Linked DNA regions of Homo sapiens. The protein of the gene in region 1 interacts with the protein of each later gene in a biochemical or structural test. Each region holds a gene or a part of one and is shown on either strand. Other genes may lie near its edges. The genes, in order: ARHGEF12, ABCA1, PLCB2, SH2D3C, CIB2, CD46 and SLCO1B1.

Region 1 (4,186 bases):
GTGGAGGTTGCAGTGTGCCAAGGTTGTACCACTGCACTCCAGCCTGGGTGACAGGGTGGGACCCTCGTCTCAAAAGAAAAAAAATAAATAAATCCAAATTACCAGATTAAATGCTATTACTCTTTTGCATTTATTTTGAACTGCACTTTTGCTAAGTTGTTAGTTAATAATATTCAGTGAGTAGTGGAGAAAAGAGGTCACAAATTTATTTTGCCACCATGAAACTAACAAGTTTTAAAAGGGACCCCGTTGTTAATAGAGTTAAAATATAACTTGCCAGTCAAATTTGATTTTTAATCAACACTACATCCGTCTCTTTGGTTTTTGATTTTTTTCTCACCAAATCAAAAAACATACCACCCTAAATGAAAGGCTTTTCATTGGGATCTATCAATGATTTGAACATAAAGAACCAAAGTAATAGCATAAAAATTTTCAAATGCAGAAAACTGTTCACAGAATCGAGACACCCTAATAACTTTGGGGTATAAACTCTTAGGTCTCTTTCTAAGCAGTAAATTTCATGTAATTTGCTTAAGAATATAAAAATAGCAAGACTCTATGCCACTTGTGTTATTGAGACAGCACCGAGTATCTTATGCAACTTCACAATGAATCTGGAAATTAGTATCCTTCAGTGGACATACTTGCCTGTTGCCACTTGTCGAACCAACACTGTACTCAACTTAATGACAGGGCTAAACGTGTGTTTGCTATCAGCTGTAGATGCCAGAATCTTACTATGACACCTTAAAACCAGTCTATCATCCTGCTTTTGTAACAATACAAGAATGTCTTCCAGCAGCAACGTGTATAAATCTAGAAATAAAAGTGCAGAAAAAAATGGTAAGTACAGAAATGGAGACGCGTTTGATTAACTTTATAATGATTCAACAGAGGAATTCTATTTCTGTTAAAGCTACAAAATTTTAAAAATTGACTTGTATATTATCTTTTAAAATTTCATTTTCAGTAATTCATTTTTATTTTATTTCACTGAAGTGTCAGTCTGTGACCAATAGGAAATAAAAAACAACAAGCTGGGTGTGGTGCTGTGCGCCTATAGTCCCGGCTACTAGGGAGGCTAAGGCAGGAGGATCCCTTAAGCCCAGGAGTTCGAGGCAGCAGTGCACCATGACTGCATCTGTGACTAGCCACTGTGCTCCAGCCTGGGCAACATAGAAAGACCTTGTTTCTGAAAAAACAAAAACGGTTCCTCATCACAGACAGTTTAAGATGTACTGGTCTAAAGAAAGCTTACAAAGCATACAAAGACTCACTAGACTATAAGAATGATGGAAATAGGACTAAATCAGTTCTCCACTACATTCCTAAATGAATATTTAACACATCTTACATATAATGAAATAACACAAGCAGATCTACAAATGTACAAATAACACGAGGTAGCACTGCAAACTGCTGAGAGAATGGTTCTCTCCTCTTCCCTTTGTCATAGGAAACTTTCCTATTCCTTCCCTTTTGCCACTCTCCCCAAAACTAAAAGACAATATCAGACCTACCAATAGTTTTATCTCTATTCACCTTCCAAACCAATGGCCCTTCATGAATCATCTTCCTTTTTGTTAAATCCAAATTCTGGCAAAATAAAGAAAATCATGCACAAATAATTTCCAAGCACTCAGTAACATGATTATCTATATAATACAGTCTCTTTTAAAGAAATTCTTAATATAAAATACACCATTTACATTCAACTATCATTATTGCTATTTGTCAGTTCTTGAAAATGGCACAAAAGCCATATTAAAGTAATCTGCATACAATTTTCTAAAAAGGAAAAGGTATCTTGCAGAAGAACATTCAGGAGTACTATCTTCAAACCTCACTCTAAACAGATGATAACAGATTATGAAGATCAAGTTACAAACATTCAGTCACTAGATTCTCAACGTATCCTTTAATTTTCCTATGAATAACTGGATGAGCATGGTACATATGCTTGTCTATAAGAAAGTGGCTTCTGAGTTCCAAGGCTCTAATTTCAAAGAAAGTTCTAAGAAATAGTACTCATGAAAAGTCCAGGTACTACTCAGACTTGGTCTAAATATTAACAACTTATTAGTAAGAGAATCATCTTTTAGTATTAGCAGCTCTAGAAAACTCTCATTCTTTGGAAGCTAAGGGGAATAAGCACATTTACGTGCTTGTTGACGAAGTATTAATATATGACATAAAAGTCTATTTTAACAGCCACCAAATAAATCTGCCAAAACCACCACCTAGTGAAATGGTACAAAAACACTTAAAATCCGAAAAAGTTAACACATAAGCCCACATACTAGAAGTGGCAATTAGTAAACATTTTACTATCGTTCCTGTAATGGTTCCAACTTTTATGCTTCTGAAGAGCCTCATGAGAAAATAGTATGCTATCTTGTGTTATTAAATGATCTGGAAAGTTACCAAACAGTCCTACCCTTATTTAAACTACAGAACACAGGCTGGGCATAGTGGCTCATGCCTGTAATCCCTGCACTGTGGGAGGCTGAGAAAGGAGCACTTGAGCCCAGGAAATCTGGACCAACCTGACAACACAGCGAGACCTTGTCTTTACAAAACACAGAATTAGCTGGGTATGGTGGCATATACCTATAGTCCTAGCTGCTAGGGAGGCTGAGGTGGGTGGACTGCCTGAGTCCAGGAGGCCAAGGCTTCAGTGAGCCAAGACTGCACCACTGCATTCCAGCCTGGGCAACAGAGCAAGACCCTGTCTGAAACAAACTACAGAACACAATAAAATTAAATTTTATAATAATTAGTGTCCCTTAGTCTCCTGCCAATTGCTGTCATGTAATATTACAGTTTTATGCAAGATATTCCTCTAATGAAAAACTAATTTCATACAGATCAAGCATTTAAAAGGCAGCAAAAAAAATCATAAATACAGATAATCTACGATACAAGAACTCCTTCAGGTGACGTATATTCCCACTGAGATGTTAATTACCTGCCAGGTCTTTAGCAAATTTTATTTTATTTTTTAAATTATGATTAGACCATCTCTCACCCTGAGCTCTTCAACATTTGGGTACTCTGACAACTTCAGGCTGGAGGTATCAAGGCGACGCTGATAATCTTCTAGGCGCTGAAAATTAGGCAGGGTGGAACCAAGGTTAGTGCTTTGGTCATTAATGACCTCTCTATTTCTGAATCAAACTTGGCATTTAAAATCTCCATTTTGGCCAGGCGTGGTGGCTCACACCTGTAATCTCAGCACTTTGGGAGGCTGAGGCAGGTGGATCACGAGGTTAGGAGATCAAGACCATCCTGGCTAACACAGTGAAACCCCGTCTCTACTAAAAATAAAAAAAAATTAGCCGGGCATGGTGGCGGGCGCCTGTGGTCCCAGCTACTTGGGAGGCTGAGGCAGGGGAATGGTGCAAACCTGGGAGGCGGAGCTTGCAGTGAGCCGAGATCACGCCACTGCACTCCAGCCTGGGCGACACAGCAAGACTCCATCTCAAAAAAAAAAAATCTCCATTTTACTGAGCTCTTTGCAATGCTAGACAGGACTGAAAACTCACTCTCTTCCCGTGGCTTTGGTGATAATATACTCTCCTAGTTTTCCTCCTGCCTCTTTGGCTTTTCTTTCTCAATCTTCTTTTCAAAGTCATTGGTCTCTTATTAGCTTATATTTATTTTCTGAATATGTAAATCATGCACACAGTACAAAATTCAGATGGCTATATAAGGCAAAAAATAAAAAGTCTCCCTCTAACCTTGTCCTATTGCCCCACCCCCCTCAATTTTCCCTAAAGAAGCAATCACTAATATCCATTTCTTGGGTAGCCTTTGAGAAAAATTCTATGCAAACAGATATGTATTTATTTATATATGTATATATAAGTATGCTTGTCTTTGTGCATGTTGTGTGTATATGTCCTTTTTTAAAACAAGATATGGTAGCATAATATATTCATATATGCATTCCTTTGGTATTCCTATATGTATTCCTCATTGAAATGGTAGAATACATTCATATACGTATTCCCCCACGTGTGTGTGTGTGTGGTGTATGACTTATATCTTGGGGACTGTTCCACATTAGCACATATAGAGAGTTATTTCATTTTTTTATAAATGACTACAGGATGTAAAACTCTCTGAATAAACTATAATTTATTTCATTACGCCTTACTGATGGGCATTTAAGTTACTTCAA
Region 2 (4,186 bases), on another chromosome or scaffold:
TTGTATTTTTAGTAGAGACGGGGTTTCACCCTGTTGGCCAGGATTATCTGGATCTCCTGACCTCATGATCTGCCTGCTCCTCAGCCTCCCAAAGTGCTGGGATTACAGGCATGAGCCACCACGCCCGGCCAAAAACTGACTTTCTATATCGCCCCCCACCCCTACATCACCAACTGCTCAGTCATCCATTTACTTTGGCACATACGGTCTTGATTAAAGGGAAGAGGGAAGAAAATATTTACTGAGTACTTCTTAAGTGTCAGGACCTATTTGGTACTTTTTTATCTAATTTAAATAGGATTAGGCACCAAGTAAAATGCCTGGCCCATGGTAGGTGCTCACTAAATGGTAGTTTTTATGGTTATTATTACAGTAAATTCTCACAATAATCCTATAGAGTACATAGGCATCATCTCCCTTTTCAGGTTCAGAGAGGTTTAGTAAAAAGCATAGCTAGGAATAGTAGATCAGGAATTCAAGCACCAATTCAAGATACAAACTGCTCTTGGACCTATGGGCGGGAGTGTCGGGGCAGGAATCCACACCCTGAGAAGTAAATCTGTTTTGACACTCAAAGCTTACTTGGTCAAGTGTTGTCTGAGAAACAGAGTAGTCTTCTATGTGGAGTCGCTTTTTGCTCTGGGAGAGGATGCTGAATATCCTGGCCAGAGAAGATAATGAAGATGGAAGCTGGTATTGTAGCATGTTCCGGTGTTTCTCTTTTAGAACACTTCCAGGAAATGCAAGTCCAAAGAAATCCTGGACAGGCTTCAGGTCCGGGTTGGACCCTGCTATTCGTACAACTATTGTATAACCATCTCCAAACCTGAAAGCAGGAAAAAATACCCAAATGGAGGATCTCCAGAAAACTATTTAAAAGAATACTGAACCCTGGGAACCCAACTTGTGCCATGAAAAAGGGCGGCCCCTGGCAGGCCCAGAAATAAGTTTCTGAGAGAAGGAACCAGTTATCATTTACTAAATACTTATTTTATGTGAAGCACCATGCCATGTGCTGTAAATACATGATCTCCTTTAATCCTCACCTGGACCCATGAAGTCTGACAGATGTTACAGAGAAACTGAGGCCCAGGGAGTTAGTCACTTGCCCATGGCTCAGAGCTCATAATTGGTAGGGCCAGGATGCAAACCCATTTGTGTTTGACTCCAAAGCTTGCGCTCTCACCAGTACTGGCACATGTAAATTTTTTTCATTTCATCTATAGCACAAAGCTAGGAGGTAGATCTTCCAGGGAAACTAACTCTTACAGTAGTTAAGTCACTTGCCCAAGAGTCACAGAACCAGTAAATGGTAAAGACAGAATTTGAATGCAGTTCGGACTTCAAAGCCCTCATTCTTTCCACTATACTGTTTTGCTCAGTTTTATTTCCCTTTATGTTAGAGGCACCATTTATATACTCACAAAAGAATAAATATCAAGCCTTCTCACTAGGCACTATCCCAAAGAAATTATCTTTATTACCTATTTTTTAGATGCTGGACACTGCCAAGGCACCTGAACCTTCCATTGACCATGATTGCCATCCTAGTGCAAAGAGCTTCACATTCTTCCATACTGCGGTAAAACAGAAAGAGGTTTTAGTTTTAGAGAGATTCTCTGTAACCATGAGAACATCACCATGACTTCCAGCATTCCAGCTTCCTAGGGAATTGTATTCTGTTACAAGTACATGTGGATATAGGGATGATGCTGTTCAGTGTAGTGGTGTTTACAATTGTGAACAAGTTGGAAATAATCCAAATGTCTACAAAAGGGGGAATAGTTAAATAAGAGTATATCCTAATGGAATACTATCCAGCTATAAGAAATGACACCTAAATGCACTGACTTGGAATAATGTTTACAATATATTAAGTGAAAAAGAGCAGTATTTATACTGGGCTTGCATTTTTGTAAGAATATGCATATATAATTTCAGGTAATAATTGTTTTACTCTTTGCTTTTCTGTATTTTCTAATTTTTACAAAATGATCGCATATTCTACTTGGAAAGTTAAAACATCCCACAGTGAGGAACCCAAGACTTTACTACGGACCTATGAGATGTAAGCACTACTGATCTCCCCTCCTTGACAACACTTAGGGCACAATTCCACAAGAACCGCCGGGCTTTGGGATCCATGCCTGTGGTGGGTTCATCCTGTAATTAGAATAAAATAAGTCTTATTTGCTGGGGGGAAAAAAAATCAAAGATAAATTTGTTTTTAAATGCAGAAGCATCTTTGAAACAGCTTAAATTTTAACTTGCCATTCTAGTTATTTCTTGATGAATCAAAGAATTAGAGTAACTTTCAAATTCATTTGTAAACAAGGTCATTATTATAAATGTCTTATTGATGCAGGAAACTCAAATATTCTGAGTACTTTTTTATGTAATTAAATTTCTCCAAATAAATAGGGAAGGAAAAAGGCCATTTAGTTGTAATTATCTTTTCATGACTGATAAGTATATACAAAACAACTTTTTGTCTGAAACCTCTATTGAAGTCAGTATAAGATTGGGGTGAAATTCCTTTTTTTTTTTAATTCCAGCTCACTCAGATTACCCTAGTATATTGCAACTGTTAGCCTTACAGAAACAAATTCCAGACCGAGGTGGAATACATAAAAGCCTCAAAGGCTTCTTCCCGTAATAACATCAATGCTCTTATCTACAGAAGAAAAAAGGTCAAGGGCCACTTCCCAGTCTGATCTGTTTTTCATCTATCCGTGTGTAAGGAACTATGACCTAGTTGCTACCTTGGGGATTTTAAAGCTGTGTCCACACTCTTCATTTTCAGGGAATGAACACAAAGATGATTAGAAAGAATGTTCCAGAGAAAGATCAAATCACATATCCAGCCTCAATCACGCTAAGAAACAAAGTGCTTGGAGTGCCTCTATTTGGGAGCATCTGCAGGCATGGTACAGCCACCCCAGTGTGTGCCAAGGGAGAAGCTTCCCTCTGCTTTTCCAAGGTTGCTCTGCTGTCCCTGGGGGAAGACAAGCCAATCATACAACAGCCCTGGACATATAGGACTTTTGAACAGTCATGTTTTCCACTCAGGCCAGAACAACAGTTTTCCATCCACAGTTATACTCACCAGAAACACCACAGGAGGCCCGCCGATCAAAGCCATGGCTGTAGAGAGCTTGCGTTTGTTGCCTCCACTATAGTTACCAGCATATTTTTCTCCATACTTCACGAGGCCCAGTTTCCGAATCGCCCACTCACCAACCTACAGTGATAAAAAGCACCTTGACTTTGGTCTGGCTTGGGAATTTTATCATGCTGTCCTACACATACATGTATGAAAGTTCTTTCACTGAGTAGGACTAGATTCTATAATCATAACCTGACAACTGGTGAGGAGCCAAAGCAGGGAGAAGGGACTCGTGTGGTGGGAGCAGCACTCCCTCTCTGCCCACCCAGCCCTGCCCCACCACCGTTACAGGTTTCCACCCTGAAAGCAGATACAAAGAACCAGCATTTTGTGCTGCTGCATTCATGAGGAAAAACAGCCTGAAGTCAATGCGTGTGGAAAAGCCATAAGGTATATATTGTCAGGATGCCAAAGGAGACAGGCTGGCTTTCAGGTGCCCACAGTACCTTGCCAACTTCTTTCTCTGGGACTCCTCTCAAAAGGGCAAAGAACTCCACGTGTTCTCTCCCAGTCAACAGCTCTGTGATGGCATCAAACTGAGGGCAGTAGCCCATGTTCTGATGTACTTCATGGATGTTTGATAAGATACTGCAAAGGACAAGAAAACTACTTAGATTTTAAGCAGGTAGAGATACTCTGGTTAGACAATCTGGCCTAATGTTCCTGTAAAGTATGCTTCTCCATTACAAAGATACCAATACATCTGCTGCTACTTGAAAGCACAGCCTTTCTGCCCCCAGGATGCTAGCTCTTCCTGGCAGGCAGGGTTCCTGCCTCTACCCTCCCCAGTCCTTGCACCTCCCTGGCTCTCTGAACACTTCAGTCTGCAGGTGCAGTCCCATTTCAGAATTTCTGAGGTCATGCCAACCACTGCACATTCTTTACCAACAATCTCAGTCACACTACCCCAGGGCTTTAACGCTAAGGCCCCATCCTAGACTTCACTCATATGCACCATTCACATGCACCAAATGAGAAGGCCCAGAAATTTTGAGTGTGAGCAACACAGAACCTAGAGAC
Region 3 (4,186 bases), on another chromosome or scaffold:
AAAAGCGGGGATGGGGTTCAGCCGCTCAGCACCAACCCTATTATGCATCCTTTTGTGCCCTTGATGACCCAGATCAGGGGCCAGGAGGTCAGGGAGGCTGGGACTCGAGCAGGAGAACATGAGGCCTTAGGGTGATTATACTGAGACGTGGGAGAAGCTGTAGGCAATGGTTAGAGGCTGGGGCAGTTGTGGGGAGGACAGTTGCAGACAGGAGACTGGGGGCTGGGTGAGAATGTGGCTGAATGGGCCTGGATACGCACGAGTCCACATGGTTCTCAAACGACAGGATGATGGGATAGGGGGAGGTCTTAAAGGCGCTTTCTGCAATAGCCTCAATTGCTTCCTGGAGGAGAAGGAGACTCCATGAACAGAAGGTCAGCGTTCCGACTGCCTGTCTCGTGATAGCACTTTTCCCCCCTGCCTAGTTTCAATACACACATATAACTGCATGGCCGCCATTGGCCCCCAATCCCTGCTGGTCCCCAATGGTCTGAGGCCTTCCAGCCATTCATCTTCTCTAGCTTCAGCCCTCCAACCCCTCAAAGCTTCTGGCCCAGAGCCCTTCCCTACTGCCACGGCCACCAGCCTCTGTGCCCAGGGTCTCACTTTGAAGAAGATGTCTGTGGTCATGGTGAAGCCATGGGTGATAATGGGCTCCTCGTCAGGGGGTTTCCCCTTCCAGCAGTCTAGCTCCACGCAACGGCAGCCAGAGAGCAGCACCTGGCGGTACATCTCAGCCGAGGAGAGGCCTGAGAACTGGCCGGCTGAGCCAGAGGATGGGGAAGAGGTGAGGGCATCACCCAAAGGCAGCCCAGCTCTCCCCCTACCGCCACTCCATCATGGTCTGTGTTATTCTCAGGGCCAGCAGCATGTGGGCAACCCCTGTGGAGGATGCAGGGAACCCCTGTGAAAGCAGAGGTTGGCACCAATGTTATCAGGGCCCACCTGTCAGGTAGGTGTTGTGGGACGAGTTGATGAAGTAATGATTGAGTGGCTGCGTCATGTCGTGGTGGAGCAGCAGCTTGTCCTGGGCCAGCACGCTGTTCTCTGGCCCACAGAGAAACCAGACCATGCCTTCAGGTGACAGCTGGCCTGGGGGACAGGAGATAGCTGTCAGGCTACAACCCCGCTGCCAAGGCAGGACAGGACCACAGGGGACAAGGGGTTCCCTTAGTCCTCACCCCTCTGTGCATTGATGCCACTGGGCTCATACTTGTCGATGAGGCCCTGCACCTGGTCAGGCCGTGCTGGCGGGAACAGCAGGGAGTTAAGCCGGGAGTCCCGCTGTTTCTGGTTGATGAATTTGGTCAGGTGCTCCTTCGTCATGTAGGGTTTGGCCTTAGCATGGCTTCAAGCCAGAGAGAAGAGCACAGGTCCATATCCCTTGGGCCTGGAGGCTTAGACAACCCCCTTGTCCAGTGAAGCCTCCTGACTCCCGGCATGGCAGGTGGGAGGAGGGGATTGTTAGCCACCACCCTTTTCCCATGACCAGCACAACCCAAGAAACTCACTAAGAAGTGAAGATCTCATCTATTTCTGGCCGAGGACAGAGGCTCATGAGGAAACTCTTGTAGACAGGTTCTGGGAAGTCCTCAGGATTGATGGCGTCATTCTAGGGGCATAGTAACCTTATTGCCCCTGCCCTCACCTTCTCAGAGCTAAGAACCACAAACTCGGCCCAGCCCTGGTCAAGGGGACCTGGTCAGAAGGCGGGCTCAAGGCAGACAGAAGAACTTCAAGGACACCCAAGCATCCACTTCTCAAGGCCCTGGTTGCTGAGCAGAGAGCATGCTTAGCTGGTTTGCTCTGACCCTGATTTTGTACAGTGGCTATTCCATTGGCTGGGGCAGGATCGGAACTAAGAATAACCAGAATGAGGTAGAAAAGAGGTCAGAAGAAATGATGCTGCTTGCCAGGCTAGTAGGCTATCTTTTTTAAGTGGAGGACAAATATTCAAAAAGAAGCAATTTGAATATAAACATATATGCACCTAACAACAGAACCCCATAATATATAAAACAAAAACTGATAGAATTGAAAGGAGGACAATTCAACAATAATATTTGGAGACACCAAAAGCACCGGGACAAAGAAAGATAAATTAAACGTCATCAAAATTAAAAACTTTTGTGCTTCAAAGGACACCATCAAGAAAGTGAAAAGGTAACCCACAGAATGGGATAAAATATTTGCAAATCAGATATCCGATAAGAGATAAGTCAACAAAAAGACAACCCAGTTGAAAGATGGACAATGGATTTGGACAGGTATTTCTCCAAAGAAGATATATAAGTGACTAATAAACACAGAAAAGGTGCTCAATATAATTTGTAGTTAGAGACATGCAAATCAAAACCACAATGAGATACCACTCCCACTAGGATGGCTAAAACAAAAAACAGACAATCACAAGTGTCAGCGGGATGTGACTAACCTAAAACCCCACACAGCACTTTGGGAGGCCGAGGAGGGTGGATCACCTGAGGTCAGGAGTTCGAGACCAGCCTGGCCAACATGGTGAAACCCCATCTCTACTAAAAATACAAAAATTAGCCCAGCATGGTGGCACATGCTTGTAATCCCAGCTACTTGGGAGGCTGAGGCAGGAGAATTGCTTGAACCTGGGAGGCAGAGGTTGCAGTGAACTGAGATCACGCCACTGCACTCCAGCCCGGGCAACAGAGTGAGACTCTGTCTCAAAAATAAATAAATAAATCCCTACACAATGCTCTCACTTTAGAAAACAGTTTGGCGGTTTCTCAAATTGTTAAATATAGAGTGACCACATGACCCAACAATTCCACCCCTGGGTATATACCCAAGAGAATTTACACATGTTCACACAAAATCATGTACATGAATATTCATAACCAAAAAGTACAAAAAACCCAAACATCTACCAACTGATAAACAGATGAACAAAATGTGGTATATCCATACAATGGAATATTATTAGGTGGTAAAAAGGAATGAAGTACTCATGCATGCTACAACATGGATAAACCTTGAAAACATTATGAGAAATGAATACAGCCTGACATCGAAAAGCATATATTTATGATTTCATTTACTTTACCACCAGAATAGGCAAATCTATAGAAATAGAAATGAAAAGTACATTTGTGGTATTCAGGGATTCTGCACCTTTGCATTCCTTCCCCCCCCAAAAAAAACATTAAATGTCTTTCAGAATCACACTGGAAGGCCAACATCAGTCTTAGTTTGGAGCAGAGGGTCTGAGCAGGAGAGTCTAACTGGATCTCCCCAAACCCCTCCCTGTCTCTGGAGCTTCAGCTCCAAGCAAAGTTGGGTCAGTAGCCTCTACTGAGACACAAGGAAAGCAGATAGATAAGGAGGACTTAGCCAAGGGAGGAGCTCAGGCAGCAGGAGAGAGGGAGGGTGGATGTGTGCTGACCACAGGTAAGTGTTGCTGGCTGTAGGGGAGCCGCAGGAGCCCATTCCTACCTCTCCCCAACGCCACATTTGGATCCCTGTGACTGACTGCATCAAGGAGTCACCAACTCTGCAGAGCTGTGGCTGTGGGGTAAATGCTCCTCCTGGGATTCATGTGGGCAGGTGATCAATGGGGGTCGTGGTTTTATTTATTTATAACGTTCCAAATTCTTACCAGGAGAAAATACTCCATGGGGTATAGGCTGGGACCCACACAAGAGCACTGGCCAAGCAGGGACAGGGGCTGAGATTCGCTCCATTGGCCAGGCTTGAAGCCTAGCTCAGGGCCATATCAGCCCAGAGGGCTCCTTTTTGTAATTCACACAAGTTGCTTCATGGGGTGACCCTGCTTACAACTTGTAATTAAAAATTAATTATTTAACTAAAAAGACAGGGAAAAATGCTTTTCTGTACAGAGCAGAAGTCTGCATCTTGGCAGCTTCCGCCTTTGGTTCAGTTCCTCTCCCTCGACACGCTGCAGACTTCCAGATCCCTGCAGACTGCCGCCTGCCACTGCCGACCTTATCTCGCTCCTCCAGGCTGAAAACATTCACGCTCAGCTCCCATTCCCAACACTAGACTGGGAATGCATGCCGTTTCTGCTGCCTGCCCTGAACACAGTCCATCAACCACAGCCCCAGCGCCCCCACCACCCAGGGTAGGGGATACAGACAAACCTGCTTGGAGCTCAGGGTCTCACTCCCTTGCCCTGGCTCCACCCCTGTGCCTAGTG
Region 4 (4,279 bases), on another chromosome or scaffold:
CACCCAGGCTGGAGTGCAGTGGTGCAATCCTGGCTCACTGCAACCTCCACCTTCTGGGTTCAAGCGATTCTCCTGCCTCAGCCTCCCGAGTAACTGGGATTACAGGCACGTGCCACCACGCCCAACTGGTTTTTGTATTTTTAGTACAGACAGGGTTTCACCATGTTGGCCAGGCTAGTCTCAAACTCCTGACCTCAAGGGATCCACCCACCTCGGCCTCCCAAAGTGTTGGGATTACAGGGGTAAGACACCGTGCCTGGCCACTAATAATAATAATTTAAAAATTTCTGAAAATGATTCTGCATCTGCCAAATGTGCTGCATGAATTCTCAGCATAACTCAGTGACACAGTTTAATCCCCATTTTCCAGATGCGAAAATTGAGATTCAGAGCAGTGTAATGAACCGAGCTCACACCGCTGGTAGGTGGAGCAGGTGTGCGTGTTTTGTGCTCATGTAGGGGGTTGGGGAGTGTTCCAGCCAGCCTCTGTGCACCTGGGGTGGGGGTGGAATGAGGAGGGGGTTGTTGTGAGCCTGAGGGTCGCACTGTCTGTGGTTCTCTCCTTCCTGTCAGCTGAGCCCAGCTCCAGACTCAAGAGGAACGGCTGGGGTGATACCATCTCCTGGTTTCTGCGGGGGTGTATGTGAGTTCCCTCCCCCTGCCCCCAGCTGTGGGACTGTCCCTTCTCACAGCCACCACCAACTGACTTCCCCACAGCCTCCAGATGAGCAAAAAGGTAAAACTCCGGCATTTTCCACATCCTCAGCATCCTCCACCTCCTCAGCTGTTCGCACCCGTGCTGGGATGCAGGTAGGATGCCCCCAGTTGACAAGGGAGGAAACTGAGGCCCAGCAATGGGGAGGGACTCCCCCAGGGTCACACAGCAAGGCCATGGCTGAGCCTGGACACAGGCCCAGGGCTCAGCACAGCTGGGTCAGTGCTCAGGGGTTTGCTTCCCAGCCCTGCCGGCCCTATTTGGTTATTGCCTTGGTCTCCTGAGAAACGTGTCGGCAAATGTGGCCGCTCTGCTGCATGCGGTGGGGGTGGAAATTGAATCAGTGGCCAGAGGGAGGACCCCCAACTGCCTTCTTTCTCAGCACCACTGGTTTTGCCTCCTGGGCACCAGACGTTTGGAGGAGATAGTGGGGGCTGGGAGGGAAACTGAGGCCCAGAGTCCAGGGTCTGGGATTGGGCCCTGCTCAATAGCCCGTGTGACCTCAAGCAAGTCTCTGGGCCTCAGCGTTGCCATCTGGGAAATGCAGTCATAATCGCCTCAGCATTGCCATCTGGGAAATGCAGTCACAATCACTGCCCTTTACGCCACATGTCCCCCACCCTGGTGGGGTCAGATCAAAGGAATCAGGAGACAGAAAAAGTTTGCTGGGACTGGGAAGGACAGACACAGGAAAACAGAGCAGTGGGCAAGTGTGGCCCCTCACCGTGGAGCCTGATTCTAGTACCTCTGTGCTCTTTCCCCACCCAAGTATTGGGTCCCAGCCTCACTGCTGTTGGGAATGTGAGACAGCATCCCATGACACCCCCATCCCCCTGCCGCCCCAGTAACTCCCCACCTGGGATCCCATGATGCCCCCATCCCCCTGCCGCCCCAGTAACTCCCCACCTGGGATCCCATGATGCCCCCATCCCCCTGCTGCCCCAGTAACTCCCCACCTGGGATCCCATGACGCCCCCATCCCTCTGCTGCCCCAGTAACTCCCCACCTGAGATCCCATGTGAGCCCAGGCCTGCGGGCAGGGGATGGAGTGTGCGAATGCCTCCCCTGCCCGGCCGCAAGGTCAGAGACAGCCAGAGACACAGTGGACTGCAGAGATCGAGAGACGCGGTGGGGAGACAAAGAGACGGATAAAGAGAAGCACAGAGATGGAGAACGAAGTCAGTCAGAGAGACAGAGATGCTGGGCCAGAGTGACAGCCAGAAAGCCACGGGATGCCCAGAAGCAGAGACGTCTGCAGAGAGACAGTGATGGACAAAGAGAAACAGAAACAAGGCGGGAAACAGGAGGATCGCTTGAGCCCAGGAGATCGAGACCAGCCTGGGCAACAAAGTGAGAACCCACCCCGGTCTCTAAAAAAAAAAAAAAATCAGTTTTATTTTACTTTATTTATTTACTTATTTTTTGAGATGCAGTCTCGCTGTGTCGCCCAGACTGGAGTGCAGTGGTGCAATCTCTGCTCACTGCTATCTCCACCTCCTGGGTTCAAGCGTTTCTTCTGCCTCAGCCTCCTGAGTAGCTGGGATTACAGGTGCGTGTCACCATACCCAGCTAATTTTTTGTATTTTTAGTAGAGAGGGGTTTCACCATGTTGGCCAGGCTGGTCTCGAACTCCTGACCTCAGGTGATCCACCAGCCTCGGCCTCCCAAAGTGCTGGGATTACAGGCGTGAGCCACCACTGCACCTGGCCAAAAAAAAAAAAAAAGATTTAATTGTGCCTGGAGTCCTAGCTACTTGCCTAGCTTCTTAGGAGGCTGAGGTGGGAGGATCACTTGAGCCTGGGAAGTCAAGGCTGCAGTGAGCCGAGATTGTGCCACTGCACTCCAGCCTGGGTGACAGAGACGCTGGTGTCCAAAAGCAAAAAACAAAAAAAGAAAAAGAGTGAGAGAGAGAAAAACAGAAATGAGACAGTGATGAAGAAACAGATGCAGAGAGAGGCCCAGAGGAGAGCCAGGGATGGAGGACAGTGCAGACGGCACCCCACACTCACTGAACTTTTTGCTGGTCTTCTTGGTCCCCTCTGTCATCTTGGCAAATTGTGTGAAGCCCTTGGCCAGCTTGCGAGTGGCCACTCAAGGCTCGGGACATCAAAGTTGAGGTGCCTCTCCCACCTCCCCTTCCCCTTTCTCTTACTCGCTTCCTCTGTGTATTTTTAAACCAGTGAAACTCCCACAGCTCCACCCTCCCCACCCTCTCCGCAGGGGGCGGGGGCTGGGGCCTCTCCTAGCCCCAGCCCCTGTGGGCCGCCTCCTTGGCCTCAGCAGCAGGGGCAGGGGCCAGACCGCAAGCCCCTGGGACCTGGAAGGTCTAAGGAGCAGGCCGCAGGCTCTGGGAACGGAGCCCAGTGGGCTGGGGGCCGCTGGGGACCTGCCAACAGCTGTCAGGGGGCCTGGCCATCAGGCTGGGAAGGTGAGGGGAGTCAGGCCTGTGTGCAGGGCAGTTGCTTCTCAGCCTCTGTACCCAGGAGAGGGACTGGCAGCTGCAGATGGGAGAGTGCTGTGGTCAGGCCTGTGGACTCTGGGCCCCCCAGACCCAAGTTCCACTCTTGGCTGGCCATTTCGCCACGGTGTGACGTCCTCCCTGTGAACCGGGGGTACTCGCAGTGCCCACTTCATCGGGTTCAGCCATGGGTGTAGGGCCTGGCACAGAATCGGTGCCTACCAAAGCACAGTCACCACTTTCCAAGCTATCAGGGAGATGTCATCATGTGTTCCACTGTACTCACTGGACAGAGATGATGAAACCGAGGCACAGAGAGGCAGAGGGATTTCCCCAGGTAACACAGCTGGTTGCTGGCCCAGACTGGGCCACAACTCTCCCTTCTAGGCCCCTTAACCCACGGGCTGGTGCCTTTCCACCCTACAAACTTGCCATGTGTGCATGCTCAGGTGGGCAGACCGAGATGAGGAAATGCAACCTCCCCTCCACGGGTCATCCTGGACATCTGCAAAGGGTGTCAGCAGCTGCTGGGGCTGGGGGCGGGGCCCAAGACCCAGGGCTGCCAATCCCAGCTACTTCCACCTCCCAAGCCTCAGTCACCTGATTTCTAGAATGGGGAGAAGTGGGAGGTATGCAGCCAACCTGCCAACCAGTGGGGGTTCAACATTTTATCCTGGACCCCAGGCTGGCAACCCAGGCTGTGAGAGGAGTCCACTGCCATCTGATAGGGCACTTCCTGCATCCTCCATTAACAGTAACAGCCCCAGGGTGGGCGCGGTGGCTCACACCTGTAATCCCAGCATCTTGGGAGGCCGAGGTGGGTGGATCACCTGAGGTCAGGGGTTTGAGCACAGCCTGGCCAACATAGTGAAACCTCGTCTCTACTAAAAATACATTTTAAAAAATTAGCCGGGTGTGGTGGTGTGCAACTGCATTCCCAGCTACTCGGGAGGCTGAGGCAGGAGAATTGAACCAGGGAGGCGGAGGTTGCAGTGAGCCGAGATCGCGCCACTGCACTCCAGCCTGGCGAAAGAGGGAGACCCTATCTCAAAAAAAAAAAAAAAAAAGCAGAGGCAGACACTGGACAGACTGACAACCAAGTGTCC
Region 5 (4,186 bases), on another chromosome or scaffold:
ACTACCCTTCCCTGAGGGTGGACAGGTGGGCAGCAAACTCCAGGTAGCTCTTTTCATGTTTAATAACACCATCACCCAGCCCTCCCAGACACAGGGGCCTGTGAGAAAACAGCTCCTGCAAGCAATGTCATCCCCATGCTGCAGACGGGGCCTCAGGCTTGGGTTTTGCTCTGGTGTTGAATTACAGAGCCTAGGGTCCTGATGCGTGCAGAGGGGTGCAGGCCAGGGCTGTGGGGAGCCAGGACGCCTCTCCTCAAGCCCTCTCACCTGCCTGGAGCCCCTCATTTTCCAAGGGGCCAGGGATACCCCTGATATGGTTTGGCTGTGTCCCTACCCAAATCTCATCTTGAATTGTAGTTCCCATAATCCCTACGTGTCATGGGAGGGACCTGGTGGGAGGTAATTGAATCATGGGGGCAGTTACCCCGAGGCTGTTCTCATGATAGTGAGTTCTCACGAGATCTGATGGTTTTATAAGGGGCTTCTCCCCCTTTGCCCAGCACTTCTCTTTCCTGCCGCCATGTGAGGAAGGATGTGTTTGCCTCCCCTTCTGCCATGATTGTAAGTTTCCTGAGGCCTCCCCAGCCATGTGGAGCCATGAATCAATTAAACCTCTTTCCTTTATAAATTACCCAGTCTCAGGCAGTTCTTTATAGCAGCATGAGAATGGACTAAAACAACCACCAAAGGCCCATCATATTGGATCGGATTCCCGGACTGGCCTTCAAGCTCCTCTCTCCTCTTCCCCACACAGGCAATCTTGCTGCTGTCAATGAGACCACGGGAGGATGGGGGTGGGAGTGGGAGCAGGAGAAGCTGGCCTGTGTCTCACCTCTGCTGCTCCCCAGCCTGGAATGTTCTCCCTCAGCCAATCCTACCTGTCTTTCACCCACACACTCTTCATATGGTCACTGGTGGCTAACAGGTGCCATGCTCCCTGTTAGTCCTGCCTGATCACAAGTCTGGTGGGGAGCTGGGCCCCTGGGTCCAGGAACCCAAGGAGCCCCTAACAGGCTGTTAGAGCAGCTGGGATAGCACTAGGGTGGCAGGGTGTTGGGGGTGCTTATAAAGGAGATGATTCTGGAGTTGGGTCTGGAAGGATGCATAGCAATGCTGTGGGCAGAGGAGAGGCGAAGGACACTCCAGGGAGTGGAGATAGCCAGTGCAAAGGCCGAGGCAAGGGGCTTTTGTTGCCAGAATGAAAATGGCCGTGGGCCTCAGAAGACAGGCAGCTTGGGCTTGGCATCTACAAAGGTAGGGAACCCGAAGCTCCCTGTGAGGCTCAAATGAGGCTCCATGCCAAGAACTCTGAAAGGTAAAAGGTGCCACAAGAATGCCAGGGGTGACAGCTTTGTTATTCCAATACCGAGAGCCATCCTGTCGAAATGGGGACCTCACCCCTGACATCTCTCAAGCTACAGGGCAAATCCCACTTATCAAACACTATACCCCAGTGTTGCTGCCTCTCGGCAATGCTATGAGGGTAGGTTTCACTATCCCTATTATACAGAAGAAAACTGAGGCTCAGGGAAGGTCAAATGGTTGCCCAAGGCCACAGATGCCAGGTCTACTGATGCCAGGCCTGGAGGCTTTGCCCCTTGCTCAGACTCTCTAAGGTGGTGGAAGTGGGGTATCCCCTGCCCATGCAGGTGACAGGTTGGAATAGCAGCCTGGGTAGAGAGGAAAGCCGAGAGGCACTGCCTGAATGAGCAGAATGGTTAGGGCAGTGACAAGCTGCAGCACAGCTCTCTTGGGAAGCTGCAATGGGCTCTGGTCCCAGCCTGACCATCGATCTCCAGGGCAAGTGATCCTGGGACTTTGCTGGCTTTTAGTGCCACCCAGGCAGAGGGGCCTAGTGAGGCCCGTGGGGCAGTTTTCTTGGTATTCAGTGATTCCTGCTCACCCACTGGTCCTGGGGTTCTGAGGCTGCCGATCCCCTTTATCTTTCCCATCCAGGTCCACCCCCACCCCCATCAACACCAAGGAGAAGGGCTGTCCTGGGAAGAAGCAGAGCCCTGATGAATAGCTCAGGGGTGGTGGCCATGCCCTCAACTTTTAGACGTCCTAGGAGTGGAAGAACATCAAAGCTAGAGCCAAAGGGCCCTTAGGGACCCCTGGTCTAACAGACAGGGACTCCCTGCTATACCAGGACCCAGGATGCAGTGAAATAGCAAGGGACCTGGAGTCAGAGGCTGGGTCTTGAGTCCCTGGCTCTGTGACTTTAGCCAAGTTGCTAAGCTCCATCTGTCAAATGGGGATAAATGGATTCTCTTGTTACAAGGTCACAATGAGGATTAAATAAGAATGTGCCGGAAACTACCCACCTGAAAGCTCATAGTAAGTAGATGTTCATTCCCCAGCAGGAGGATCTGGGCCCTGGGAGGAGTGGGAAGCTCTAACTCCATCCTAGCCCAGTGGCCGAGTGGGGACCTGAATGTGGCTCCTGATACATGCTGATGCTCTGCCTCAGCCCCAGGAGCACAGCCAGCCCATGTGGGGTGCCCCAGCCTCACCCCGGCCCCAGTCCCAGTCCCAACAGGGTGAACGAGAAGCCACACTTACTTGAGGATGTCCTTCTTATTGAAGAAGGTGCAGTCCTGTTGAGGGAAAACACACAACACACAGTCAGTGTGCGGCTCCCAGACTTTCTTCCTCAGAGGCCTCGATGCCACAGGGCTCACAGGGGATAGCTCCGGACTGGGGACAGAAGAGTCACTACTATCCCTTTCCACCTTGCCCTCACCCACTGGGGACAGCTGGCTCTAGTAGGTATAGAAAATGCCTCCCAAAACCTTTATCCATCCTGGGCTAGGCCTAAGGAGCTTAGTGCATGGTGGGGGGCTGTAGCATGCTTTAGGGTACACATGTAGGAGGAAGATGAATGCTCACAGGTATGCGTGGCTGATTTGAGTGCCAGTGGGATACACTGGGGGATGACAGGGAGGTGGCTGGGAGACAACTCCGAATGAGGACCCACAGGGCCACCTCGTGTAGCTGCATGGGGTGCCATCCTCACTGTAGCCCTGAGCATGGTGCTAGGGGGGTTGTGCAGTCCCAGGCTCAGAGACTGAGAGTTCCAGGCACATAGACTGGGGAAGCATCAGTATATACTTGGTGTCTGAAGCCAGAAAGGGATGAGGTCACCCAGAGAAGGGAGTGAAGAGGCCAGGGAGATATGGGAGGGAGAAACGTGGGCAGGGGGAACCAGGTAGCATCTGGGGTAGAGGTGAGGGTAGGGGCTGCTGGGGATCCCCAGGTAAGCATTACTCCAGGTGGGGGGCAGCACTTGGCTCCTAGGGCCATCCAGATGACAAACTCATCTCGGAGGGGTCCTGTCTTTGTTTAGATGAACTGCCTCTATCCACAGCTTGGCCTGCCCAAGGTGAGTATCAACCACTGGGAGTCAGTGACAATGGCCACTATGCCAGCCCTTGGTGAAAAGTATAGAGGTGAAGAGGACCCAGCACTTTGTAAAATGCCCAACCGTAAAGGGCTTTTGTGCACCTCCCCTGCTGTTTAGCTCCTCCGCCTTTGTCCACTGTTACAGCATGAAGCAAGAAGGCCTCCTAGGTCTGCAGAGCCCAGAGCCCATAGGGCCTCCTGGGGCCATAAGCTGACCAGAGCCAGCTCTGATGAGGAGTGAATGGCTGAAACTCAGGCCTGCAAACAGCCAGGCTTGCCCTGAATGAGACCTGAAGCCGCTGGACATCAGGGCAATTGGATTGCGTGTTAAGAGGCCCAAAGAGAGGACGCCTGCAGGATGCACACAACATCTGGGGTTTCCACTGGGTGCCTTCGGGAGAGCTGAAAAGGGGAGAGCTGGTGGGAATTTCCAGGCCCCATTTGGCCCAACAAGTCTGTCCTTCTAAGCTGCTGCTCCCTGGGAGTTAGACTAAGGATCCATGCTGGCTTCTTGGAAACACGAGGGGTTCTCCTGGGGGTCTCAGCTTTGCTTTTGACAGTGGTTCCTCTGTAGGAGCCCAGAAAGGCTCAGGCTGGGGAAGCAGTGCCCCCTGCTCCTCACCCAACACAGACAGAAAACTCCCTACTTAGCAGGCCTCAGGCACAGACAGGCTGGAGACACAGTGGGCTGATTTATCAGCAAACTCCAGAAACATGGTGCAGAATGTGGACTTCCCTCCACCCCAGGGCCGTTTCCATGGTCTAAGGTGCCCAGTGAGAAGGG
Region 6 (4,186 bases), on another chromosome or scaffold:
ATAATTCTACTTATTTGGTATTTCTCATTTAGTATTTTGCTTTTATTGCTCTCAGTATATATTATTTCTCAATAAGGTTAGAACTTCTTTTAGGAAGGTCACTGTCTTAAAGTTTTGGTATCCCTCGGTGTGCCTAGCAAGCAGTATGTGTCAACTGAATATTCCAATATTTCTACTTGACCAAATTTTAAAAACTGTCAGTTGCCTTACATAGTCACAGCTGATTTTTCCTCCAAGACTCACTTACTTTTTCTATATTATGGTGTGTTACTGCTATTGTTTGAATCTGGTTTGTCTCTACCAAAACTCATATTGAAATTTAATTGCCAGTGTAACAGCATTGAGAGGTGGTGGGGCCTTTAAGAAATGACTAGGTCATTAAGAGGTATAATGCCTTTCTAGAGGGTCTTCATTAATTCTTCAGGGAATGAGTTCTCATTCTTGTAGGCTTGGATTCATTACCATAAGAGCACGTTGTTATAAAGCGAGAACCCCCTCCCTTGTGCTTTGTCTTTTTTGCACATGCTAAATTTCCCTTTCACTTTCCAGCATGTTATGATGCAGCACAAAAGCCCTTGCCAGACACTACTGCCATCCCCTTGAACTCTCCAGCCTCCAGAAATATGAGCCAAATACATTTCTTTTCTTTATAAATGCCTAGCCTCAAGTATTCTGTTATAGCAGAATACTTACATTTACTCTATAAATGCACATTTATCTTAAATGTCTAGTATCTCCAATATATACAACTTCAAAACCCTACAGAACAAAGGCTATTACCGAGGGCTCAGTACCTGCTCTTGAGATGCTTCACACTGTAGCAGTCTCAAAAATAAGGTTTTTCAACTGAGAGATTTTGATCAACATGATGGTAAAGGCTAACCGCGTCAGTTTTGGTCTGATAACACTTTACAGAGTCATCTGGATACAAGTGTATCTTTAGTTGGCAATTCTATTTCTCATTTTTGTGAGCCCTACTTCAACTCTAAGAGTTGGCAGATTTAAATAGGGGACACTCAGTTGTGAAGGACAAATTCTCATGATTACTACATTCTTAATGCTTACAACAGACTTATTGTCAGAAACAGCAAGTAGTTTTGCTTTCCTTAAATATCAATTACTTTCTATTTACTATATATCTTGCCTATCTCCATAAAACATCCAAGAGTTGTTTGGCTAGAAGTATAACTTGTCACATAGAAAGCAAAATTAAGTTTACAGGAATGCTTAAGAAGAGAAGCAAAACAAAAATAAAATTACTAACACTTCCCTTATTTCCTCTAAGGAGCAACTTACCCCTCATTACAAATAAAGTGCATCTGATAACCAAACTCGTAAGTCCCATTTGCAGGGACTGCTTGGCCATTTAAAGGATCCCGTATATATGGACATGTTTCTCCTGAAAGAAAATAATTTTGATAGTTTTCAATCCAGTTATAAAACAGATCTGAATCAAAATCAAAATTCTGCAGTGCTCTTTTGAATGGGTGGGAATATAATTTTCATTATTTACTTATTATAAGGGCAAACTTAAGATTCATATTCACCCAGGCAATCTATTGCCAGGAAAATGATTTCTTGGAGATTTTGATTTCTCAAAGCTTGCAAAAATGCATTGTTATCTTGAACCTCATTTTACAAGAAGAAAATCATCATCACCGTAGTGGAATATGTACCCCAAAATGTATGCAAATCTCTAGAGCAAGCAGAAAAAAAAAAGAGGTTTGTTTACTTACTATAACAGGCGTCATCTGAGACAGGTAGCCATGTATGATTCCGATCACAAATAGTATGGGTGGCAAGAGGAGGTATATAGAAGTATCCTTTTTTACACTTATAATCTACTCGTTCACCAATCTCATAGTAGGGTTTTGGTTTACCAATGAGCTCCATAGCTTCAAATGTTGGTGGCTCCTCACAGGCATCTAGGGATAAGAGAATAGGAACATGAAGATGAAGTACTGATATCACTTTCATCAGCCATGGACTGTGGTCTGGCAGCAGGTAGTACAGAAAAAACAGAAAGGCCCTTGGCAAGATTTTAAATGACTGTTCCATGCTTTTACCTGAGTGCTCATAGCAGTGGAGGAAATGGGACTTGCATGTTTTAAGTAACATCCTATTAGCTTTTGGTTTGTTTGGGAATAAACATTCGACAATAAACTGAAGAGACAGCATTAATGTCTTTGATCTTAAAATATATATGGATGCATCTTTCCCCACATTTTTCTAAATTCATTTCAAAAGTAACTTCTCCTCTAAGAAGTCTTCTACAGTATAGAGTACTCTGCTCAGATTGTTCTTCCATAGTTTAAAACACTAACTTATAACAGCTTGTCACTTCAGGGTGTCTTCTCTTAAAAGGCAAGTTCCTGGGGGTCAAGAACCATGTTCTTCTTTTTCTACTATACTCACCTTGTGGGTGCACAAGAAATGCTGACACTGACAAACTCTATCTGCAAATAAGTATTCAAGAAATTGTCTGCTACCGTGCCTGGGAAAATCAAAACAACCCTAGTTTGGATTCATGTTGTGCTAAGTCAAACAAAAGGCTCAAGTTGCCCTAAAAGGACAGGTAATAACGTGAAAGTCTGAATTTATGATGGTGAGTGTTTACTCCTGATGAGTCTGTTGCTTTTCAGAATTACTCACCCTGTGATTTAATCCTCTTCCTTCTTTCTTGCCTCCTTTGCCCTACTCTGCCACACTGAATAGCTTGGCAGTCCAGTAGTGTCACATCTTGGTGCCTTTGCTCACCTTGCTTCCTCTGCTCTGAATACCCTTCCTCCCTGGCTGGTAGCTACAACTCCTGCTCAACTCATCTTCCTTAATCCACCCATCATCTCCTCCAGGAAGCATTTTCTGCCTCCCCCTGGGAAGCAGTGATCAGTCACCTTCCCCTGGACTCTCCCCTGCATGGATCTCTCAGGTAACTATCACATGCTTTTGTGTTTAATAGTTAACAAGGCCAACTCCATTCATCCATGTGGCCACAACACCCAGCACAATATGTCACTCAGAGTAGCTATTCAAAAAAAATTTGGTATTCAAAATCCACTGCTGTCAAACACAAAACAATGTGAAGAATATATTGTAATCAATTTCATATTGAAAATAATCATTCTACAGCACAATGGAGAAAGAAGATTAGGCCATTTCTTGTGCTGCCTATCTCCCAGTCTTCTGGTATCCTGGCAGGTGACCAGATATGGACTGCTCTCTTTGCATTGTAGTATGCCCAGTAAGGAAACTGAGACGCTACTGTGTAAGTGCTTACTGATCTTGGCTTCTTTCACTGGAAATAAGGAAAACACCTAAAATAGGCAGAAGAGACCACGCACAACAGGAGATTGCGGGTTTTGTCCAAAAAAGCAGCTCCTCTTCTGGAGGAATGAGACTGGCCTGAAATTTGATACATGTTTCCTTCAACTATCTGGAACCATTTGGCAACTACCTTTGAGAGGGCAGGTCTCCCATGCACAGCACTGTCTGCTTACGAAACCTTCTCCTTGTGAGAGTGAGTTGCTCCAAAAATTGAATGTTTATTTTAATTCACGTATTCTCTCTGCCTAGCATCGTGACTTCTCATTTTTACTTTCTCTAGGTTTCATACCTGTCTTGATTTACCCTTATGAACCTCAAACTTAACCTTGCTTTTCCTTCTCTTCATTCTTAGTTTTGTTATTTTCCATGTTGCACCCTATTCATTTCATAATTCTATGTTCCTCTATTTCAAATCGCTTTCATTATCTTCTTCAGCTTCCTATTTTGTTTCTTTTTTTGTTTGTTTGTGTGTGTATGTGTGTGTGTTTTGTTTTGTTTTGAGACAGGGTCTCTTGCTCTGTTATCCAAGCTGGAGTATGATCAGGGCTCACTGCAGCCTTGACCATGAGGGGCTCCAGTGATCCTCCCCCTTCAGTCTCCCAAGTAGCTAGGACCACAGGCATGCAACATCACACCTGGCTAATTTTTTTTTTTTTTTTTTACATGTTTTGTATAGGTGAGGTCTGCTTATGCTGTCCAGGCTGAACTTCTAGCACTAAGCCTATTCTAAACATTAATCTTAAAAGAAAAAAAAAAAAGTCCTTTTGTTTTCTTCTTATCACCACTACTCCCTACTCCCATTACCCTCCTTCAAAATGAACGTTTTAATGATCAGTGAGATGCAAGACTGAAGTACTGGAAG
Region 7 (4,186 bases), on another chromosome or scaffold:
AAAAAGGATTCAGCTGGAAAGTTGTGTGGGGGTATAAAAAACTGTATCTACATATAAAGATGGGAAATACTTGGGTGTGTTTGCTGAATAAAAGAGAAGATGGAGATAAAGAAGCGGGAAGGGAGAATCTAAGCTCCAGCTAGATCTATCAACATTGGATACAGATGTATATATTTTCCACTGAGCTGCAAAAAAGAAAAAGAAGATAAAGATAGATATGGTGCAAGAATATTTTTAGGGAAAAGGGCCTGAAGTTGAGACAGTTTTTATAACATGGCATCTCTTTCATCTATGAGATAAGAAGGAAAGTATGCTCTGAGAATGAAGAAGAAAATCATAGATTTTATTTATGTGTCCTCTGCTTTATTCCTTTGTTCAACAAGTACTTACTGAACATTGCCATACGCCAAGCCCTCTGCTAGGACCAGGGAAAATGACCATAAAATACACAGTGAAGTCTCTCAAATGACTCCAGCCATAAATCAATGCAGCAGCCACAAGAAGACTTTAGCAAAGCAAACTTTAAGTTGTACACATCAACATCCAAGCCACCATCAACTGAAAAATAAAATTTACTTGACTGGACAGTCAGTTTGGGAGGGAGACATTTTACATTTGGTTATTTTGGACCAAGCTCATGAAAATAAATTTGTTTACATTCTCTCATTTTACACTTAGTTATAAAGATAGTATAAATAGGAGCTGGATTTTATATTTATTCTGATTAGTAATACATTTATTTCCTACTTGTAACTTTCTAATTATATTAAGCAAAGGACTATTGAAAGAGTGAATTCAGTTATTTGAAAAAATGTTTTTCGCATGTGTGCTTAGAAAGACGTTATCATGGTACCTTGTTCTGGTTGTACTTACTTAGATCTACATATCCAATATCCACGTACATTTTAGAAAACAGAGATCCCAGGGTAAAGCCAATGATTGGACCAATCATTGCTATTGCATTCAATATACCTGAAAATATTATAAAGCAATTTTACTAGATGCCAAGAATGCATGGTTCTTATTCACCATGTTTTTAAAAGAAATATGATACAATACATATACCCAAATATATGTTCTAATAGGTAAAATAATAAGTTTAGTAACTCTACTATTTCAAAAGTAGACAAAGGGAAAGTGATCATACAATTTAATATTTTGTGTACATTACCTAAATACAAAGAAGAATGTCCTTCTTTAGCGAAATCATCAATGTAAGAAAGCCCCAATGGTACTATGGGAGTCTCCCCTATTCCACGAAGCATATTACCCATGAACACATATATCCACATGTATGACCCAGATTCCTTTAAACAACCTATGTAGATAAGAGAGTGTTTCATTTTAAACATTAATTTTAGCATTTCTATTACAAATTTAACTACTTGTAAACTCTTAATTATTCTACTTATTTTTTTTTAATTTACAAGTACAAGTAATTTATATTCACTTTGCAAACTTTGACAATATGGTGTATTAGTCCATTCTTATGCTGCTAATAAATACATACCTGAGACTGGGTAATTTATAAAGGAAAAGGGTCTAATGGACTCATAGTTCCTCATGGCTGGGGGGCCTCACAATCATGGCGGAAGATGAAGGAAGAGCAAAGCCATGTCTTACATGGTGGCAGGCAAGAGAGCTTTTGCAGGGGAACTCTCATTTATAAAATCATCAGATCTTGTGAGACTTCTTCATTACCACGAGAACAGTATGGGGGAAACCGCCCCCAAAATTCAATTATCTCTACCTGGCCCCACTCTTGGCATGTGGAGATTATTACAATCAAGGTGATATTTGAGTGGGGACACAGTCAAGCCATATCATACAGAAAAGCACAAACAAGTAAAAATTATCTGTAATCACATTACACACAGAAGATCACCTCAAGCTTTTTTATATATCTTCTAGATTTGCACAAAACATATACATTATATTCATTATATCCATTATATATTTAAAAATCTAGTTCATATTGTTAAATGGTATACACAGTTAACACCATATTATAACAATTGTTCCATGTTGTTAAGATTTCTTTAATATCAAAACTTTAATGACTGGACAGTAATGTGCTGAATAAGTTTCCAAATGTGTTTATTCAGTATCTTATGTTTTAATTTCTTTTTTGTTGTTTTATTCTATTAGGTTTATCATGACTATAACTGTAAATAAGTCCTTTTGCAGTTTCCTGGTTATTTCCTTAAGATTAATCAATAATAGCAGAATTTCAGACTAAGTAGGTAAGTATATTTTTGTTCTTAACATATATTGATAATGAATCTCCAGAAAGATTTACAAACGTATACACTTCCAGCAATATATACAATGTGAAATCCTTTTTTGCCTCTACCTCGTCTCTATGTATTTTTAGTCTTTTTCTATTTAATAGGTTAAAAAAATCTTTAGCAGTACAATTTGCAATTATAATTTATAATTTGTGTTATAATAGGCAAAAAGTCTTTAAATGATATAATAGTTTGCCTTTTGCAATGAAAGCAAAGTTATATTATTTACATATTTATACCATTTCCTTCTGTTTTACTTTAATGCATATATTCTTTGTCAATTTCCTATTGAAAATATTCTCTTTTCTGATCTACTTCTAAATGCTTTTACATATAATACAGTCATCCCTTGGTATATTAAGGAATTTGTTACAGGGCTGCCTGTGTGTTCTCAAATTCATGCACACTTAAGTTCTGCAGTTGGCCCTGTTCAATCCAAATATAGAAAATGTCAGATATTCTTACCGGCAGGTTTATCATCCAGTTCAGATGGACAAAATTTGCATAGAAGTGAAAACGCGTAGTTTAAACCTGTGTTGTTAATGGGCGAACTGTGTATATTAACACTATAATTATGTCTGTAAGAGTCAAATGTTTTTCCTATTCATTCTTAATTAAATTTTGCTAATGAATATCACAACAATTTTTAGAGATGTAATTAAATGTATACATTTTAGAAGACTTTTTACTGTCAATATTAATTCTTACCTTTTCCCACTATCTCAGGTGATGCTCTATTGAGTGATAAAATTTGATTAATTAAACAAGTGGATAAGGTCGATGTTGAATTTTCTGATGAATTGATATTAGTTTCTTTAGAATACCTGTAACTGTAAGAACATCACTGAATTAAACATTTTGCTTATCTACTGAATATTTTCACTTTTCCTAGAAATACAGAGAAATATTCCCCTTTATTTGCACCATTATCTTCCCCAAATTACCAGAGTACTTTCTGTCAATTTCCCAGCATGTGTTTTAAGAGATGTGATGGGTAAAAGTGAAATGGAAGTGTCCAGCAAGAAAGATAATTCAATACACCCCAGGCTAAGTGGGTTATCACCTTGCTATTATCCTAGGAGTGGTTATATCTTGGTCAAGATATGAAATATCCTAGTTTCACCTTTTTAAAAAGTAATTATTAATTGTGTGTAACCATTCATCCTTTTGAATTATCTTCAAAGATGATCAGTCTGTCAGATTTTCTTTCATGGACACATATTCACACACACGCTCTAATGTATGACTCTTCAAAATGTAGTAAAAATAAAATCTAATCCATTTCAACTAGATGAGAGAAAACTTGATAGGAATAACAGAGATGTTAATATCCATAAATAATTAGGTACCACGTGAGCTCTAAAGGCAGCCTACTGTATTCCAGGCATTATGCTAAGCTTCAAAGAGCTAGAAATAAAACACACAGTTTTTGTACTTAGGGAATTTCACACTAGTATAAACATAGATGATAAAAGTTATAAGTTTAATATATAAGGTCCTGAGTTGTCACAAAGACAAAGGATATGATCAACTTTGCTTGGAGGTTGCGGGAATAGATCAGAGAAGACATCAACATGAGAATGACAGGTAAAACGAATCTGGAAGATGAATAGAAGGGTAGACAAAGAAACAAAGGTATTCAAGGCTGTAGAAATACCAGGTGCAAAAGTGTCACATATTATGGCATATTTAGAGCAATGCTGATCTAGATTGTGGTCCTTAATTTTAGGGTAGAATGGAAGATGAAGCTGTGATACTTGCCTTTAAGGTTTATTTTCCATACAACTCATGAAGAATCATAAATAAAGATTAAAAAGGAAATTAGAGGACTCTGACGGTATGGTGCCAAAAGCAGATGAAAAAAAATGGACATGATGAAGAAGACACAAAGATAGAAA

Evidence for each region.
Region 2: the proteins of ARHGEF12 (region 1) and ABCA1 interact in a test that uses a peptide from one of them, tested with the Homo sapiens proteins (one large-scale study listed by IntAct).
Region 3: the proteins of ARHGEF12 (region 1) and PLCB2 interact in a test that uses a peptide from one of them, tested with the Homo sapiens proteins (one large-scale study listed by IntAct).
Region 4: the proteins of ARHGEF12 (region 1) and SH2D3C interact in a test that uses a peptide from one of them, tested with the Homo sapiens proteins (one large-scale study listed by IntAct).
Region 5: the proteins of ARHGEF12 (region 1) and CIB2 interact in a test that uses a peptide from one of them, tested with the Homo sapiens proteins (one large-scale study listed by IntAct).
Region 6: the proteins of ARHGEF12 (region 1) and CD46 interact in a test that uses a peptide from one of them, tested with the Homo sapiens proteins (one large-scale study listed by IntAct).
Region 7: the proteins of ARHGEF12 (region 1) and SLCO1B1 interact in a test that uses a peptide from one of them, tested with the Homo sapiens proteins (one large-scale study listed by IntAct).

The regions. Positions count from the first base shown.
Region 1 is NC_000011.10:120,471,973-120,476,158, reverse strand, and holds part of ARHGEF12 (rho guanine nucleotide exchange factor 12), read right to left. Parts: intron 3,110-4,186; coding exon 3,032-3,109; intron 1,600-3,031; coding exon 1,524-1,599; intron 820-1,523; coding exon 652-819; intron 1-651. UniProt on the Homo sapiens protein: May play a role in the regulation of RhoA GTPase by guanine nucleotide-binding alpha-12 (GNA12) and alpha-13 (GNA13). Acts as guanine nucleotide exchange factor (GEF) for RhoA GTPase and may act as GTPase-activating protein (GAP) for GNA12 and GNA13.
Region 2 is NC_000009.12:104,784,814-104,788,999, forward strand, and holds part of ABCA1 (phospholipid-transporting ATPase ABCA1), read right to left. Parts: exon of another isoform or gene 3,755-4,186; coding exon 3,613-3,754; exon of another isoform or gene 3,242-3,612; coding exon 3,107-3,241; exon of another isoform or gene 2,804-3,106; intron 2,164-2,803; coding exon 2,060-2,163; intron 1,578-2,059; coding exon 1,485-1,577; intron 827-1,484; coding exon 583-826; intron 1-582. UniProt on the Homo sapiens protein: Catalyzes the translocation of specific phospholipids from the cytoplasmic to the extracellular/lumenal leaflet of membrane coupled to the hydrolysis of ATP.
Region 3 is NC_000015.10:40,297,617-40,301,802, forward strand, and holds part of PLCB2 (1-phosphatidylinositol 4,5-bisphosphate phosphodiesterase beta-2), read right to left. Parts: intron 3,994-4,186; coding exon of another isoform or gene 3,976-3,993; exon of another isoform or gene 3,051-3,975; intron 1,859-3,050; coding exon of another isoform or gene 1,793-1,858; exon of another isoform or gene 1,630-1,792; intron 1,613-1,629; coding exon 1,512-1,612; intron 1,349-1,511; coding exon 1,182-1,348; intron 1,093-1,181; coding exon 946-1,092; intron 765-945; coding exon 607-764; intron 344-606; coding exon 261-343; intron 1-260. UniProt on the Homo sapiens protein: The production of the second messenger molecules diacylglycerol (DAG) and inositol 1,4,5-trisphosphate (IP3) is mediated by activated phosphatidylinositol-specific phospholipase C enzymes.
Region 4 is NC_000009.12:127,775,867-127,780,145, forward strand, and holds the start of SH2D3C (SH2 domain-containing protein 3C), read right to left. Parts: upstream 2,801-4,279; 5' UTR 2,762-2,800; coding exon 2,725-2,761; intron 2,066-2,724; exon of another isoform or gene 675-2,065; intron 1-674. UniProt on the Homo sapiens protein: Acts as an adapter protein that mediates cell signaling pathways involved in cellular functions such as cell adhesion and migration, tissue organization, and the regulation of the immune response.
Region 5 is NC_000015.10:78,121,143-78,125,328, forward strand, and holds part of CIB2 (calcium and integrin-binding family member 2), read right to left. Parts: intron 2,598-4,186; coding exon 2,563-2,597; intron 1-2,562. UniProt on the Homo sapiens protein: Calcium- and integrin-binding protein that plays a role in intracellular calcium homeostasis. Acts as an auxiliary subunit of the sensory mechanoelectrical transduction (MET) channel in hair cells.
Region 6 is NC_000001.11:207,754,753-207,758,938, reverse strand, and holds part of CD46 (membrane cofactor protein isoform 3 precursor), read right to left. Parts: intron 1,926-4,186; coding exon 1,737-1,925; intron 1,400-1,736; coding exon 1,297-1,399; intron 1-1,296. UniProt on the Homo sapiens protein: Acts as a cofactor for complement factor I, a serine protease which protects autologous cells against complement-mediated injury by cleaving C3b and C4b deposited on host tissue.
Region 7 is NC_000012.12:21,175,708-21,179,893, reverse strand, and holds part of SLCO1B1 (solute carrier organic anion transporter family member 1B1), read right to left. Parts: intron 3,119-4,186; coding exon 2,997-3,118; intron 1,319-2,996; coding exon 1,172-1,318; intron 973-1,171; coding exon 874-972; intron 1-873. UniProt on the Homo sapiens protein: Mediates the Na(+)-independent uptake of organic anions.